Linked DNA regions of Homo sapiens: region 2 is linked to region 1. The links come from fine-mapping of genetic effects on gene expression. Tissue or cell type: nasal epithelium. Region 1 holds a variant in brackets; the other region holds the start of a gene. All regions are shown on one strand. Distances are between the middles of the regions.

What was found. PIP is the estimated chance that this variant, and not a neighbour inherited with it, causes the effect.
Region 2: it holds the start of CFAP74, and the variant in region 1 is fine-mapped to the expression of CFAP74 in nasal epithelium (TOPMed, PIP above 0.99).

The regions. Positions count from the first base shown.
Region 1 is chr1:1,973,233-1,981,331 of GRCh38, reverse strand. CFAP74 (cilia and flagella associated protein 74) reads left to right here. Exons shown (of 39, transcript NM_001304360.2): 7 at 7,134-7,307. Among named protein-coding and RNA genes, the nearest start is that of CFAP74, 27 kb to the left of the region's middle. RefSeq lists enhancers at 793-1,750, 1,751-2,708, 7,938-8,099 and a silencer at 7,513-7,680. The variant A/G (reference allele first, on the strand shown) is at 4,766.
Region 2 is chr1:1,999,717-2,007,815 of GRCh38, reverse strand. It overlaps CFAP74 (cilia and flagella associated protein 74), which reads left to right and starts at 4,030. Exons shown (of 39, transcript NM_001304360.2): 1 at 4,030-4,115. RefSeq lists a silencer at 3,872-4,166.

The sequences.
Region 1 (8,099 bases):
CGCCCCCTCCCTCTCGCAGTCAAGGTCTCCGTGGCCAATGTGGTGACTCCTTTTGTCGTCTCTGGGCACTGCGGGCACAGGGGCACTGGACGGCTGGGTGCAGCTTCAGCTTCCACTCAGTGGGATTGTTGCAGGGTCTCTGCAAGGCCTCCTCCCTCTGGAACGGGGGCTTCCAGCGGTAGAGCCCAACGGAGAGAGCACAGAAACGAAATAGCACGGGTGTGTGCGAGGGGCAGCTTGGAGAGCGTGGTCCCCGCTTCCAGCGTCGGTCCCGGGAGGCCTCCGTTGTGGCTCTGGGACAGGTGGCGGCCACGAGGCTGGCCGCTGCTTCGGGACCCAAACCGCGTTCTGGAAACAGCACCTGAACCTTCCCCAGCACGTGTCCCTGCTGCCACACCATGCGCGTCATCCGCAGCCACAGAACAGGCCGCCCCAGCCCTTAGCCGCCTAAGGCAGCAGGCGTGATGGTCTCGGTTTCTGAGGGTCTCGGTTTCTGAGGGTCGTGGTCTGGGCAGGGGGTTGGGCTTGGGGTGTTCAGGCCAGCCCGAGAGAGACCCCGTGGAGGGGCTTCAGGCATGAACAGCCGAGGGTCCTTGGAATCATCTTGGAGACGGGATGCTGCATGTGTCTCACCCGCAGCTCTCCCAGGACCAGCATCTCTGCACGCAAGGGGCCATGGGCTGGCAGAAGCGTCTGTGGACTCACGGGCATTTCCTGGCCAGCAGGTCCCAGGAACCCCCAAAGAAGGCCCTAGAGACGACCCTGCCCGCTCACACCACCTCCCGGTCCTCAGCGCCTGCGCAGGTCCCATCCCTGTGCCCGGGGGCTGCTGTGAGGCGCCCACTGCGATCTGTGCCGGTGGCTTAGATACAGTCTCTCGTTCACCCGTCCTCCCCACACGGTAAGAGGGCGCCCACTGCGATCTGTGCCGGTGGCTTAGATACAGTCTCTCGTTCACCCGTCCTCCCCACGCGGTAAGAGGGCGCCCACTGCGATCTGTGCCGGTGGCTTAGATACAGTCTCTCGTTCACCCGTCCTCCCCACGCGGTAAGAGGGCGCCCACTGCGATCTGTGCCGGTGGCTTAGATACAGTCTCTCGTTCACCCGTCCTCCCCACGCGGTAAGAGGGCGCCCACTGCGATCTGTGCCGGTGGCTTAGATACAGTCTCTCGTTCACCCGTCCTCCCCACGCGGTAAGAGGGCGCCCACTGCGATCTGTGCCGGTGGCTTAGATACACTCTCGTTCACCCGTCCTCCCCACGCGGTAAGAGGGTGCCCACTGCGTGCCAGACGCCGTCCGAAGCCTTTGGGCCTCTCCCATGAATGAAGCAGCAGAGCCCTGCCTGGTGGAGGCTGCTTCGGTGGTGGGAGGCAGGCCGTGAGCGATCACACGCGTGTTCTGCGCAGCCTCGTCACGTGACACCTTCCCATGCCCAGCTCAGCACGACACGTGTGTTCTGCGCAGCTTCGTCATGTGACGCCTTCCCACACCCAGGTCAGTACCACACGCGTGTTCTGCGCAGCTTCGTCATGTGACGCCTTCCCACACCCAGGTCAGTACCACACGCGTGTTCTGCACAGCCTCGTCACGTGACGCCTTCCCACACCCAGCTCAGCATGACATGCGTGTTCTGCGCAGCCTCGTCACGCGACACCTTCCCACGCCCAGCTCAGCACGACACACGTGTTCTGCGCAGCCTCGTCACGTGATGCCTTCCCACACCCAGCTCAGTACCACACGCATGTTCTGCGCAGCCTCGTCACGTGACACCTTCCCACGCCCAGCTCAGTACCACACGCGTGTTCTGCGCAGCTTCGTCACGTGACGCCTTCCCACGCCCAGCTCAGTACCACACGCGTGTTCTGTGCAGCTTCATCACGTGACGCCTTCCCACGCCCAGCTCAGTACCACACGCGTGTTCTGCACAGCCTTGTCACGTGACGCCTTCCCACGCCCAGCTCAGTACCACACGCATGTTCTGTGCAGCCTTGTCACATGATGCCTTCCCACGCCCAGCTCAGCACGACACACGTGTTCTGTGCAGCCTCGTCACATGACGCCTTCCCACGCCCAGCTCAGCACGACACACGTGTTCTGTGCAGCCTCGTCACATGACGCCTTCCCACGCCCAGCTCAGCACGACACACGTGTTCTGTGCAGCCTTGTCACATGATGCCTTCCCACGCCCAGCTCAGTACCACACACATGTTCTGTGCAGCCTTGTCACGTGACACCTTCCCACGCCCAGCTCAGTACCACACGCATGTTCTGTGCAGCCTCGTCACATGACGCCTTCCCACGCCCAGCTCAGCACGACACACGTGTTCTGTGCAGCCTCGTCACGTGACGCCTTCCCACGCCCAGCTCAGCACGACACACGTGTTCTGTGCAGCCTCGTCACATGATGCCTTCCCACGCCCAGCTCAGCACGAAGAAGAGGCTTTGTGTGCACCCCGCTTGGCCACATGGGACCCACGGCAGGGCGCTGGTGCTGTGTCCCGGCCTGCTCTGAGGCTTCCCTGACTGCACCCGTATCCCATCGCTGCAGTGACAAATCCACAAACCTAACAGCTCAGCAGGACGCGGATTTATGAGCTTGCAGTTCTAGAGGTCATTGGCCCAACACGGGTCCCACTGGGCTAAAGTCAAGGTGTGGGCAGGGCTGGTTCCCCACGGAAGCCTCCGAGGAGAATCCATGTCCTCGCCTTTTCCAGCTCCAAAGCTGCCTGCGTTCCTCCTCCATCTTCAAAACCAGCCAGGTCCCATCTGTCCAGCCTCCAACCTTCATCATCACCTCTGCGACTGACCACACTGGCTCTTCAGATAAACTGGACTTGAGTGGGGTCCCCATCTACTTCAGCCCTAGGGACCCCAAAATCAATTAACCACCGCCCCAAACCCCTTCCACCCATCCCCGCTGAGACACGCTGCCCTGCTGCCCACCGAGGAACCAGCCCGGCTCCCTCCCAGGCCTAGCAGCACCCCAGGGCTCCACCACCCCTCCCAGGTCCAGCATCGCCCCAAGGCAACAGGGAGCCCCTCAAAGGCAACATCCCTGCCAGGCCCCCGCGCAGTCCGGAGTGCCCCTCGGTGCTTTCAAAGGGCACAGGACTCTCCTCACTGGAGCCATAATGAAGAACATGTCTTCTATATGTGGTCACACTCACTGTCACACTCACCAACAGCTGGATGCAGTGGCTCACGCCTGTAATCCCAACACTTTGGGAGGCCAAGGTGGGCAGATCGCTTGAGCCCCGGAGTTTGAGATCAGCCTGGGAACATGGTGAAACCCCATCTGTACAAAAAATACCAAACTTAGCTGGGTGTGGTGGCGTGCACCTGTAATCCCAGCTACTCAAGATTACAGGCTGAGGTGGGAGGATTGATTAAGCAAGCCCAGGAGGTCAAGGATGCAGTGAGCTGAGACTGCGCCACTGCACTCCAGCCTGGGCCACAGAGCGAGACACCATCTCAACAACAGCAACAACAAACTTTCCAACGGGTTGTCTCTCCAAACATTTGGATTCCTTCTGCATGACTTTCTGGCATCTAGCTTTCTGCAGTGTAGGTCTCTCTTGGGTCCAGGTTTCCTCGATCAGCTGAGTTTGTGATGGGAGCCGCCTGCAGTGGGTGGGTGAGCTGGTGGCATGTCCACATCAGATGCCCAGGCCAGCCTCGGACAGGCTCTTCCCTCTGCGGTCTGGCAGGGTTGGAATTCATTCCCACACACCTTCCCCCACGTCCTGCTGTGTAGATTGGCTACATTCTTCTCCTCTGGGATCCTTCTCCTCTCAGTTCAGTTCAGACTTTGTTCTTGCCCCTGGGAGCATCTGGGCCAGAGAGGATGGCAAGGGGGTCATGAGGAGCTCTGGCAGCCCCTCAGGGAGGTGTTACGGGGCCCCCAGGCAGCAGAGCCTGCCTTCGAGGGAGGGGAAGGCTGCTTCCCTGTGGACGGATATGCAGAGGGGCTTGGCGGTTTGGGGCACTCGCTCAGATGTGTGCAGATACCCTCAAATGTCCTCCCTCCCATTCTCAAAATCCCAATCTTTCCCAATCAGCCTCTGCTGTGGTCTGAAGGCCAGTGCCCCTGAAATTGGTCTGCTGGAACTCAACGCTATTGTTCGTCAGTCTTTGTGTCACTATAAAGAAATGCCTGACACTGGGTCATATAAAGAAAAGAGGTGGCTGGGCGAGGTGGCTCACATCTGTAATCCCAGCACCTTGGGAAGCCAAGGTGGGTGGATCATGAGGTCAGGAGATTGAGACCATCCTGGCTAACACGGTGAAACCCCGTCTCTACTAAAAAAAATACAAAAAATTAGCCGGGCATGGTGGCAGGCACCTGTAGTCCCAGCTACTCAGGAAGCTGAGGCAGGAGAATGGCGTGAACTCGGGAGGCGGAGCTTGCAGTGAGCTGAGACCGCACCACTGTACTCCAGCCTGGGCAACAGAGCGAGACTGTCTCAAAAAAAAAAGAAAAGAGGTTTGGGCCAGACACAGTGACTCACACCTGTAATCCCAGCACTTTGGGAGGCCAAGGTGGGCAGATCACCTGAGGTCAGGAGTTTGAGACCAGCCCGGCCAACATGGTGAAACCCCGTCTCTACTAAAAATACAAAAACTAGCTGGGCGTGGTGGTGCATGCCTGTAATCCCAGCTATTCAAGAGGCTGAGGCGGGAGAATTGCTTGAACCCGGGAGGTGGAGTTTGCAGTGAGCTGAAATCATGCCGCTGCACTCCAGACTGGCGGAGAGAGCAAGACTC[A/G]TTTTAAAAGAAATAAAAATAAGAAGAAAAGAGGTTTGATTGGTCAGGGTTCTGCAGGCTGTACAGGGAACGTGATGGCATCTGCTTCTCGGGGCGCCTCGGGAAGCCTCTGGAAGCCTCCAATCACAGTGGAAGGGGAAGGAGCCGTGTCTCCCATGGTGAGAGGGGAAGCAAGAGGGTGGAGGTGCCACACATTTTCAAAGATCCAGATCTTCCGTGAACTCACTCGTCACCAAGGAGACGGCCCACCCGTTCATGAGGGAGCCGCCCCACGACCCCAACACCTCCCACCAGGCCCACCTCCAACACTGGGGGCTCCGGTTCAACACGAGACCTGCGGGGGACACGCGTCCAAACCAAATCCGCCCTGGAGGTGACGGCAGGAAGAGGTGGGGTCTCTGGGAGATTCGGCCATGGGGGCCCTGCCCTCGTGGGGGCGATTAGTGCCTCGTAAAAGGGCTTGAGGGAGCCTTTCTGTCCCTCTGCCACGTGAGGACACAGACAGGCACTGCCTTTGAGGAACAGGCTTTCATAGGCCATCGAAGCTGCTGGCACCTTGACCTTGGACTTCCCGGCCTCCAGAACTGAGGAATGAAATTCTGTTGTTTGCGAAGACCCGGTCGTGGGTGTTTTCCTACAGCAGCAGGAATGGGCGACGACAGCATCTGGGACAGCGTCTTGCCTCTTTACTAAGAGACCCTGCAGGCTGTTAGCTCCCACGGCCACTGGAGCACTGATCACCGGGCAGGGGAAGTGACAGCCAGCAGAACAATGACTGAGCGTTTTCCAGAATTGATGGGAGCATGAATCCTCAGATTAAAGAATTTCATGAGTCACGCGAGGGAGGAATAGAAATAACCCGCCCGTGGAAGCTCCGCGGAGTCCCCCAGACTTGGGGAGCAATGAACGTGCTGCATGACAGGACACCAGCCAGAGATCCGAAGTGACCCATGCTCCCTGGAAAGGAGCCCTCTGTTTAAAATTACCCCAACAAAGAACATGGTATGCCCAGTTTCTAAAATGCAGTGACACAACCTCGATGCCAAAACCAAGTGGGCGTACGAGAGAGGGAAAGTAGAACCCGATCTCAGGAGGCAAATCAGAAAACCCCAAATCAAACATTCAACATTGAAATCCAGCCACGTGTGAGACACGCAGACACACCTCCCTTGCCAAGTTGGAGTTTATATCCTAGGAGCCCCGAAAAAGGCTCAACGTTAGAAATCCTTGACATTAACACGTTAAAAGAGAAAACCATTGAGTATCTCAATTCAACATATGTTCATGATTTTTTCAAAAAGATGTAAAGCAGACTTTATTCACGGAGGGCCAAGGCGGTGGGACCCCTGCCCCGGGTGTTGCAGTGGGGAGAGAGACTGGACTCGGCTCCACAGGAAAAGCTTTTAACGAAAGACGAAGTGGAAATGAACATGATCGCGGGTGTCTAGGACAGAGCTGTGGCACACGTCACGTGGAATGTCAGCAATGCAGTGAGGATGCCGGCTCAACGCCTGCGTCTGACCTTGTCCAGGGTTCTGATCCTCGCGTGGCCAGCCCCGGCCTGAGCCGCATCTCTGGGTGGAACCGTTCGCAGTCTCCAGGAGCGGCTCCTTGCATCCCTCCACCAGGTGTCTCTTTCCAGGCCGCCTCTCCAGCGGCTCTCACCTGGCCGCTGTTAGAAGGACACTGTCCACATCCTCAGAAGGAACTTTCCCAGCCTGAGCCTCCACAGCACACGCACTCCTCCAACTAAAGATTCACCGGAAATTTCCCTGAGTTGTGCCAAGAACCAAGGGGCACTGTGTCATCTGGGGCCACCACAGACGCCACACTCACAGTCGAGGACAAATTCGCCCAAGACCAGGGGTCAGGCAGGTCCCCTGTCATCCAGGACATGTGGCCCCGGGCAGGGCTGGCTGACTCCACGCTCCATAGCCCCCACCCCAGGCACATTTGAAGACTGAGGGGTGGTCTTGGGTGCCGGTCAATTTGCACCAGGGATCCTCCAGCCCAGCCAAAGAGTCACGGCTGTCCCTTCCTGAAGGCCTTCCTCAGGCTGGGCAGGGCCTGCCCCAGGCCCACCGCAGCCAACGGACACAGCCTCAGGCCGGCAGGTGGCACGCGGGAGTGCAGGCCAGGCTCTAGCCGGGCTGGATTGAACCCATAGTGATTTTCCTGAGGTTGGAGGCAGGCAGGGCGGGCCTCAGTGTCTGGGTGACTCAGAGCGGAGATGGCCCCTAGAGGAGGGAGCTAACCCATCTGGGGTGTTCAACATCTGCCTGGAGGATTTGTCAGAACTCAATGCCGAAACCCCCACCCCAGGATGACTGTGGGGCCCGTCTCCAGCTGCTTTGCCTCTTGTTTGAAGGAACACCATGTGGCACATCGAGATCCAGGAGGGGCGACTCGAGGCCTTCCGGACAGCTGACCGTGAGGAGGTGGAGGCCACGGGGCGGCGGCTCCAGGTGCGCGCAGCCGAGCAGCTCTGCAGAGAGCAGGAGGCCCTGGGGAAGGTGGAGCGGAACCGACTGCTGAGGATCAGGTAGGCGACACCCAGGCCCACCTCCATCCCTTCCCAGCAGCTTCTGCCAGCCCCTCCGCCCTCTCCCCCAGGGGTCTCCAGATTCAGCCTCGCCCTCCACATCTGTCCAGATCCACCTCCACCCCTCCCTGCCTCCTCCCAGCTTGCTCCTCCACCGGGCCCTTGAGTCCTTCCCAAGTGTCAGGCACTCCCCTGCACCTGCCCAGAGCCCCAGCCCTCCCAAGATGCCGCAGCCACCATACAGCCGCTAAAGCTGGCTACTAAAGCCACGCTCCAGCAAGACTGCCCCTCCCCTTTCCCTCCGGCAGCCCCTTCCTCTTCCCAGCCAGGCCATTCTCTGGGCTCCATCCCCACCTCTGGCTGCTCCTTTGCACCCCTCCCACGGCCCCCACCTGCGTGGCTGTGGAGCACTCAGGCCCATTCCCCACACGTCTTCTGTCATGAGTCTCCTGCTCAGCCAGGGCCCGGCCACCTACTAGGCCAGTCCCCAAGTGCTCCACAGGCCATCAGGCCAGCTGTCCCAACCTGCCGTGAGCCTCTCTCCTCGGGACCCCCTTCTGGCCTCCATCCCCTCCCCCATCTCATTCCTTCCCTTCAGCTGCCCAGGCCACAAACCCCTGTGGAATCCAGGCCCTGGCTGCAGACACAAGGTCCCCAGCCCCTGCCTCCTCCCTCCCCACAGCACTGCTGTGCCTGCACCGTCCTCTTCCCAGACCCCTGCCCAGCTGGGATCAAACCTTGCCTTTGGTGGCTCCCTGGCACTGGAGCCCCAGTAGCGTGGAGAGTTTGACA
Region 2 (8,099 bases), 26 kb before region 1:
GTTGGTCTCGATCTCCTGACCTCAAGTGATCCATCCACCTTGGCCCTGCAAAGTGCTGGGATTACAGGTGTGAGCCACTGCGCATGGCCTGATTAAAACTTTTTAATGTGGTAAAATATACACAAAACTTAACCACCTTCCCTGTATTACTTATTTGTTTTTTCTTTTTCTTTTTTTTTTTTTTTTGAGATGGAGTCTTGTTCTGTCGCCCAGGCTGAAGTGCAGTTGCACATCTCAGCTCACTGCAACTCAAGGATTTCTTGAGGCCAGGAGTTCTACACCAGCCTGGAAAAGATAGTGAGACCTCATCTCTGCAAAAATAAAAATAAAAATGACCAGCTACACGGGAGGCTGAGGCAGGAGAATGGCATGAACCTGGGAGGTGGAGCTTGCAGTAAGCTGACATTGCGCCACTGCACTCCAGCCTGGGCGACAGAGCGAGACTCTGTCTCAAAAAATAATAATAATAAAATAAAATAGAAATGAATTAGCTGGGCATGGTGGTATACACATGTAGTCCCCGCTGCTTGGGAGGCTGAGGTGGGAGGCTCTCTTGAGCGCAGGAGGTGGAGGCTGCGGGGAGCCATGATGGAGTCGCCGCACTCCAGTCTGGGGAACAGAGCCAGACATTGTCTCTTTGAAAAAGTTACTTTCTGAGGCCAAGGCGGGCAGATCACTTGAGCTCAGGAGTTCGAGACCAGCCTGGCCAACATGGTGAAACCCCATCTCTACTAAAAATACAAAAAACTAGCCAGGCATTGAGGCTCATGCCTGTAATCTCAGCTACTTGGGAGGCTGAGGCAGGAGAATTGCTTGGATCCAGGAGGTGGAAGTTGCAGTGAGCCAAGATCACTCCATTGCACTCCAGCCTGGGTGACACAGCGAGACTCTGTCTAAAAATAAAAATAAAAAGTCACTCAAAATTATCCTTTTTTGTATGGCTAACCCCCCCACATGCCATACAATTAGGTTCATTTGTTTCATTCTGTCTCCAAGTTTTAGATGCTTTTCTATTTTGATTTATTTTTGGTTTTCTAATTACACAGTTCTATAACTGAATGTAAGCACATTTAAAGAGATCTACTTTCTATTCCTGTGTCCTTCTGCCCCAGATAGTAACCTTTTTAATGTAAAAATATATATATATTCTTATTGCCACTGCTCCTTCTTACATAAATACTATACACACTTTTCTGCATCTTGATTTTTTTTTTTTTTTGAGACAGGATCTCACTTGTCACCCAAGCTGGAGTGCAGTGACACAGTCACAGCTCAGGGCAGCATCAATCTCCCAGGCTCAAGAGGTCCTCCCACCTCAGCCTCCCGAGTAGCTGGGGCTACAGGTGTGCACCGCCATGGCCGGCTAATTTTTTTTGTATTTTTTTAGAGTCAGAGTTTCACCATGTTGCCCAGGCTGGTCTCAAACTCCTGGACTCAAGCGATCCTCCCACCTTGCCCCCCAAAGTGCTGGGATTAGAAGCGTGAGCCGCTGCACCTGGCTGGATTTTTTTTTTCTTTTTTGAGATGGGGTTCACTATGTTGCCAGGGCTGGAGTACAGTGGTACAATCATAGCTCACTGTAGCCTCAAACTCCTGGGCTTGAGCAATCCATCCTGCAGCTTCCCAAGTAGCTGGGACTACAGGCTCAAGCCACCATGCCTGGCTCAATTTTTTTTACTTAACAATATGTTCTGGAGTCACTCCACAGCAGAACATAGAAATAAATGGTCCTTATACCTTCTTTACAGCTGACCTCCATCGTGTAGCTGTTCCACAGCTTCCTTAACCAACCAGTTCCATGGACACGGGGCTGTTCTCAGGCTGTCACTGTCCTTTCCTTCTTTCCTAGACAGTATATATATATATATAGAGAGAGAGAGAGAGAGAACGAGAGAGAGAGAGAGAGAGAGAGTTGGAGTCTCGCTCTGTTGCCCAGGCTGGAGTGCAGTAGTGTGATCTTGGCTCACTGCAAACTCTGCTTCCTAGGTTCAAGTGATTCTCCTGTGTCAGCCTCTCGAGTAGCTGGGATTACAGGCATGCGCCACCACGCCCAGCTAGTTTTTGTATTTTAGTAGACAGGGGTTTCACCATGTTGGCCAGGCGGGTCTCGAACTCCTGACCTCAGGTGATCCACCTGCCTTGGCCTCCCAAAGTGCTGGGATTATAGGCGTGAGCCACTGTGCCCGGCCCTTTCCTAGAAAGTATATTAACAGTTCATTGGGAAAGGTCCAGGGAGGCAAAGTTGATAAGGAAGAAGCCCTATCATTTCCGTGGAGTCGGGAAGAAGTATAATCTCTCTTATAAAAGCGAACCTGGGCTGGTAATGGTGGCTTGGTTCTATTCCTCAGATTCTGAGGAGGAAAGCGATCTGGCACTGCGGAAGGTGGGTGAGTGCAGAGGTGCTGTGGTGTCACCCAGCTACTTTCCACAGCCATTCTCACGGGTGCTGGGCATTCTGCAAGGTGTCTTGCCTCTGATGGATCAGGTTATGGGCCAGGATAAAACCAAAGGACCTCCCAGGCCTCACTGTGGCATCAGGAGCCGGCCACCCTGCAAGCCCTACACATGGCGGGCTGAAAGACTGCCAGGGTAGGGGACGCGTCCAATTCACTCGTGAGCCCAGTTCTTGGCATAGAGTGGCCCGGTGAGAGACCACTCCCTTTCCTCACACTCCCATGTCTCCATTGCAAACGGCCCCCACGGACCAGCGGTGCGAGAAGAGGCTCCGGTGTAACAGGATGCACAGTGAGATGGGCTGGGCAGCGGGGGATGGGGACTGTGGGAAAGGCAATGGGGAACGTCGGAACCGGCTTGGCATGTTGGGCCCATCTTCCGTTTTGTTTTTTGTTTGTTTGTTTGTCTTGAGACAGAGTCTCGCTCTGTCGTTCAGGCTGGAGTGCAGTGGCGCAATCTTGGCTCGCTGCAACCTCCACCTCCCGGGTTCAAACGATTCTCCTGCCTCAGCCTCTGGGGTAGCTGGGACTGCAGGTGTGCGCCACCACACCCGGCTAATTTTTGTATTTTTAGTAGAGACAGGGTTTCACCATGTTGACCAGGATAGTCTCGAACTCCTGACCTCAAGTGATCTGCCCAACTCAGCCTCCCAAAGTGCTGGGATTACAGGCATGAGCCACTGTGCCCAACCGGGTTTTTGCTGTTTTTAATTTTGAAACAGGGTCTTGATTTCGCTCAGGCCAGAGTGTGATGGCACCATCATAGCTCACTGACTTTGCTATTTACTTTTACAATTTTTCAGTTGGAGCCTTTGCTGGAACATAACATTCAGAAGTCTTTTTTTTTTTTTTTTTTTTTTTGAGCCGGAGTCTCACTCTGTCATCCAGGCTGGAGTGCAGTGGTACGATCTTGGCTCACTGCAACCTCCTCCTCCTGGATTCAAGCGATTCTCCTGCCTCAGCCTCCTGAGTAGCTGGGATTACAGGCAGCTGCCACCATGCCCTGCTAATTTTTGTATATTTAGAAGAGACGGGGTTTCACCATGTTGGCGAAGCTGGTCTCGAACTCCTGACCTCAAGTGATCCGTCCACCTCGGCCTCCTAAATTGTTGGGATGACAGGTGTGAGCCACCGCGCCCAGCCCGATCTTCCATTTGCAAGAGAAGAGGAAAATCCCCATTTTCACGGGAAACCTCCTAGTTTTTTAGGTTGACAAACGACTCCAAACCATCATGCACCCGCCCCGGTCCTCTGGGCCAACGCGCCGGTGCTGAGCTCCTCCAGGCCCCCCAAGTCTGTCTGTCACCTCCAAGCCTTGGCCCTGGGCCAGGCCTGGCTGTCTGGGACCCCGGAGACGTCCCCGCCCCGCGGCCTGTGGCCTGGCCCTTCAGCCGCGCCTCGGGGCCCGCGACCTCCTTGCCCCGGCCCCGGCCCGCGCGGTCGGTGGTGGGTCGGACCAAACCACCCGCTCCAGCCGGGGAGCAGAACGGGCGAGGCTCCCCCTCCGGCCACGATGGAGTCTTCCGTTGCCATGGAGCTGCCCGCCCCAAACCACGCCGCCGGCGCCGCGGAGGGCAATCGCCAAGGACCGCCGCCTGCCTGAGCAGCCCGGGGTGTCTGTGCCTCCGGAGCCCGAGAACCTGGGACCCAGGCCAGCCAGAGGTGGGTGTGGGGGCGGATGCGTTTGACCCTGGGGCTGAGCTGGAAGGGTTTGACCCCCGCCCCCCAGGCAGAACTCCGTCCCATATGAAACGCCTTTCCCGGAAAGCTGTGCCAGAAAAATGACTTTGTTAATAGTTCTAGTCCCTGGTTCGTTTCAGGGAACCCCGGCGCTGGCACAGCCTCTGTTGAGGGACCCGCCCCTGACTTTGCAGCAGATGTTATAATAAAGTATTATTATAACACATTTACAAAAACATTAAACAAAAATCAAGGGCCAGCCTGTCTGGTGAACAGTTAAGACTCGTGAGTGTCTGCCTAGCTAAAAAGGAGAGCATGGTCCATAGCCCCAAAGTCATTTAGTTTTAGTATGTATAACCTAGTTTTGGAAGCTGATTTGCCTCTAGTATTTTGTTTTTCTTAAAGGAATACTCCTTTTATCTGCATAAGCCAGGTACTGAGGTAGTAAGCAGGCCTGCTGTAGGGCCCACAGTTGAAAAGAAATGGACTGATATTCTCTGCATAACGATGGTGCATAAATGCGCATGTGCGACTTAGAGATTGGTTATAAATCGAACATCAGTAGCCACTACCCAAGTTAAGAAATAGAACCTCATCAGCACCCCAAAGTCTCTCCCCCATGCCACTCACAGACCCGCTCTTCTTGACCATGGCTGACTTTTTCTTTAGTTTTACTACCTATGCATGCGTCCCTAAACAATATAGTTAACTTTCACTTATTTTAAACTTTATATAAACTTTATATTTATATAAAATTTTAAAGATGATATATAAATTTCTTTAGTTTTACTACCTATGCATGTGTCCCTAAACAATATAGTTAACTTTCACTTATTTTAAACTTTATATAAACTTTATATAAAATTTTAAAGAATATATGTGGTGTTATATAAACAATATATAATATAAATATATAGACTATATATAATGCCACATATAGTTTTATGTAAGTTTAATAATATATATTAAACTTCATATAATACTACATATATTCTTTAAATTTTTGTTTTTTTGAGACAGAGTCTCACTGTGTTGCCCAGGTTGGAATGCAGCAGGGCGATCTCGGCTCACTGCAACCTCCACCTCCTGGGTTCAAGCGATTCTCCTGCCTCAGCCTCCCAAGTAGCTGGGATTATAGCATGCCTGGCTAATTTTTGTATTTTTAGTATAGACGGGGTTTCCGCGTGTTGGCCAGGATGGTCTTGAACTCCTGATCTCAAATGATCCACCCACCTCCGCCTCCCAAAGTGCTGGAATTACAGGCGGTGAGCCACCACACCCAGCCAACTTTCATTTATTTTAAATTTTATATAAATTTATTTATATAAAATTTTAAAGAATATGTGTGGTATTATATAAGGTTTATATAAGTTTAATAATATATATAAACTTTATGTAATACCACATACATTCTTTAACATTTTTTGAAACAATCCCAAACTTGTATAAAAGTTGCAAGCTCAGCACAAAAAAACTTCTCGTGAAGGATTTGAGAGTAAGTTGCCTTCATGATGCTCTGTCGCCCCCCACCCTTGTAGAGTGTATTTTCCACAAACGAGGACATTCTCCAACACAGCCACACATGGCCCGAGTCAGGAGAGGACACAGGCCTGTTGCCGTGTTTACCCCTCAGCCTGTCAAACACGCTTTGCCAGTTGATTGCATCAGGGCCCCAGCGTGGAAGGATCCAGCCTAGAGTCACTTTGCACTGAATTCTCACATACCTCTTTATTCCCCTTCAGTCCAGAACATTCCTTGGCCTTGCTTTGGCTGTCATGACCCTGACACCTCTGAAGGTCATGGGCCAATTACTTTGGAGAAAGTCCCTCCATTTGGTTTCGTCTGCTGTGTCCTCGTGATTAGATTCCCACTGCACGTCTCGGACAGGAAAGTCGCAGAGGTGACACCGTGGCCTGTTCATTCCATCCAGTCAGTGGCTCACAGTGGTCACGTTGTCACGTTACTGATGATGTTCACTTTGAGCTCTTGATTAAGGTGGTATCTGCCAACATCTCCACTGGGAAGTTCTTTTTTCCTTCGTAATTAACAAGCATTTTGGCCGGGTGCAGTGGCTCACGCCTGTAATCCCAGCACTTTGGGAGGCTGAGGAGGGCGGATCACGAGGTCAGTAGATCGAGACCATCCTGGCTAACACGGTGAAACCGTCTCTACTAAAAATACAAAAATTAGCCAGGTGTGGTGGCGGTTGCCTGTAGTCCCAGCTACTCGGGAGGCTGAGGCAGGAGAATGGCGTGAACCCAGGAGGCGGAGTTTGCAGTGAGCCGACCCTGCGCCACTGCACTCCAGCCTGGGCGACAGAGCGAGACTCCGTCTCAAAAAAAAAAAAACAAAATGAAAAACAAAACAAAACAAAAACACAAGCATTTTGTAGGAGGTATTTGGAAGCTATGCAAATATGTCATCACTCCCAGGCTTGGCCTGGGAGGCTCTCATGGTGGACACCTTCTTCTCCTGCCTGGGCTCTGATACCCTCTGCTGGACCACACCTGGGGCCGCCCTCTTTCTTCTCAGGCTCTGACATCCAGCTCTGAGCCTCAGCCACGCACACCGGCACCCTCCTCACCCAGCCAGGCACCTGCAAACAGCTCTGAGCCTCAGCCACATACCCTCACCCTCCTCACCCAGCCAGGCTCCGACAGCCCAGCCTGGGCCACTGTGGATCCTGCTCCACCTGCCCTACCCAGGGAACCTACTGTGACAGTGAAGGGAAGGGGGAGAGGAAGAGCATCAGGCGGGCCTCTGTCTTTTTCTCCTCGGGGTTGTGCGAGAGATTCATCCACACAGTGGCACCGTGGCCATCGGGGCTGTCTCTAAGCCTCAGGACCTGAGAATATGACCTTATTTGGACTTACAGTGATGCCTGTAAGTAGCTAAGAGGAGGACATACTAGAATAGGGTGAGTGCCTCATCTGGTATGACCGGTGTCCTTATAAAAAGGAGAAATTTGGACATACAAATGCACACAGAGAGAATGTCCTATGAAGATTGGAATTTTGCTGCCACAAGCCACAGAACTAGCAGAAGCTAAAAGAGAGGCCTGAAACAGGCCCTTCCCTCGTGCCTTCAGAGGAAGCATGGCCCTGCCATCAACTCGGTTTTAGACGATGGCTTCCAGAACCGTGAGACAACTCTGTTGTTGAAGCCACCTAGGTTGTGGTACTTTGTTATGGCGACCCCGGGAAGCTAACACAACAGGTGGGATTTTCTGTAGGGTGTGCTCCTGGGAGAGGAATCGCAGAGCCAGAGGGTGCCATAGGCAGGATGATCTCCCCCTTCCCCAAAAAACCCATGTCCTGGTCCTCCGAACCCATGCGCGTGTTAGGGGACGTGGCACGTCCTTAACTGTGAAGTGCCTGTTGACGTCTTTTGCCCATTTTGCTGTGGGGCTGTCTGTCTTTATCCATTCATGGATATTCCTTACATGGTCTTGACAGTAAAATTCTGGGTTATGTGCTGTGATTGTCTTCTACTTTGTAGGTTTTCTTTTTTCTTTTTTTTGAGATGGAGTCTCGCTCTGTCGCCCAGGCTGGAGTGCAGTGGCACGATCTCAGCTCACTGCAACCTCCACCTCACCAGTTCAAGCAACTCTCCTGCTTCAACCTCCTGAGGAGCTGGGACTCCAGGCGCCTGCACCACACCTGGCTAATTTTTTGTATTTTTAGTAGAGACGGGGTTTCACCGTGTTAGCCAGGATGGTCTTGATCTCCTGACCTCATGATCCGCCCGCCTCAGCCTCCCAAAGTGCTGGGATTACAGGCGTGAGCCACCGCGCCCGGCCTGTAGGTTTTCTTTAACTTTCCCTAGGATGTCATCTGAACAAAAGATTTGGTTTTGTTTATTTGTTTGAGACAGAGTCTTGCTCTGTCGCCTAAGCTGTAGTGCAGTGGCACAATCTTGGCTCACTGCAACCTCCTCCTCCCAGGTTCAAAGGAGTCTCTTGCCTCA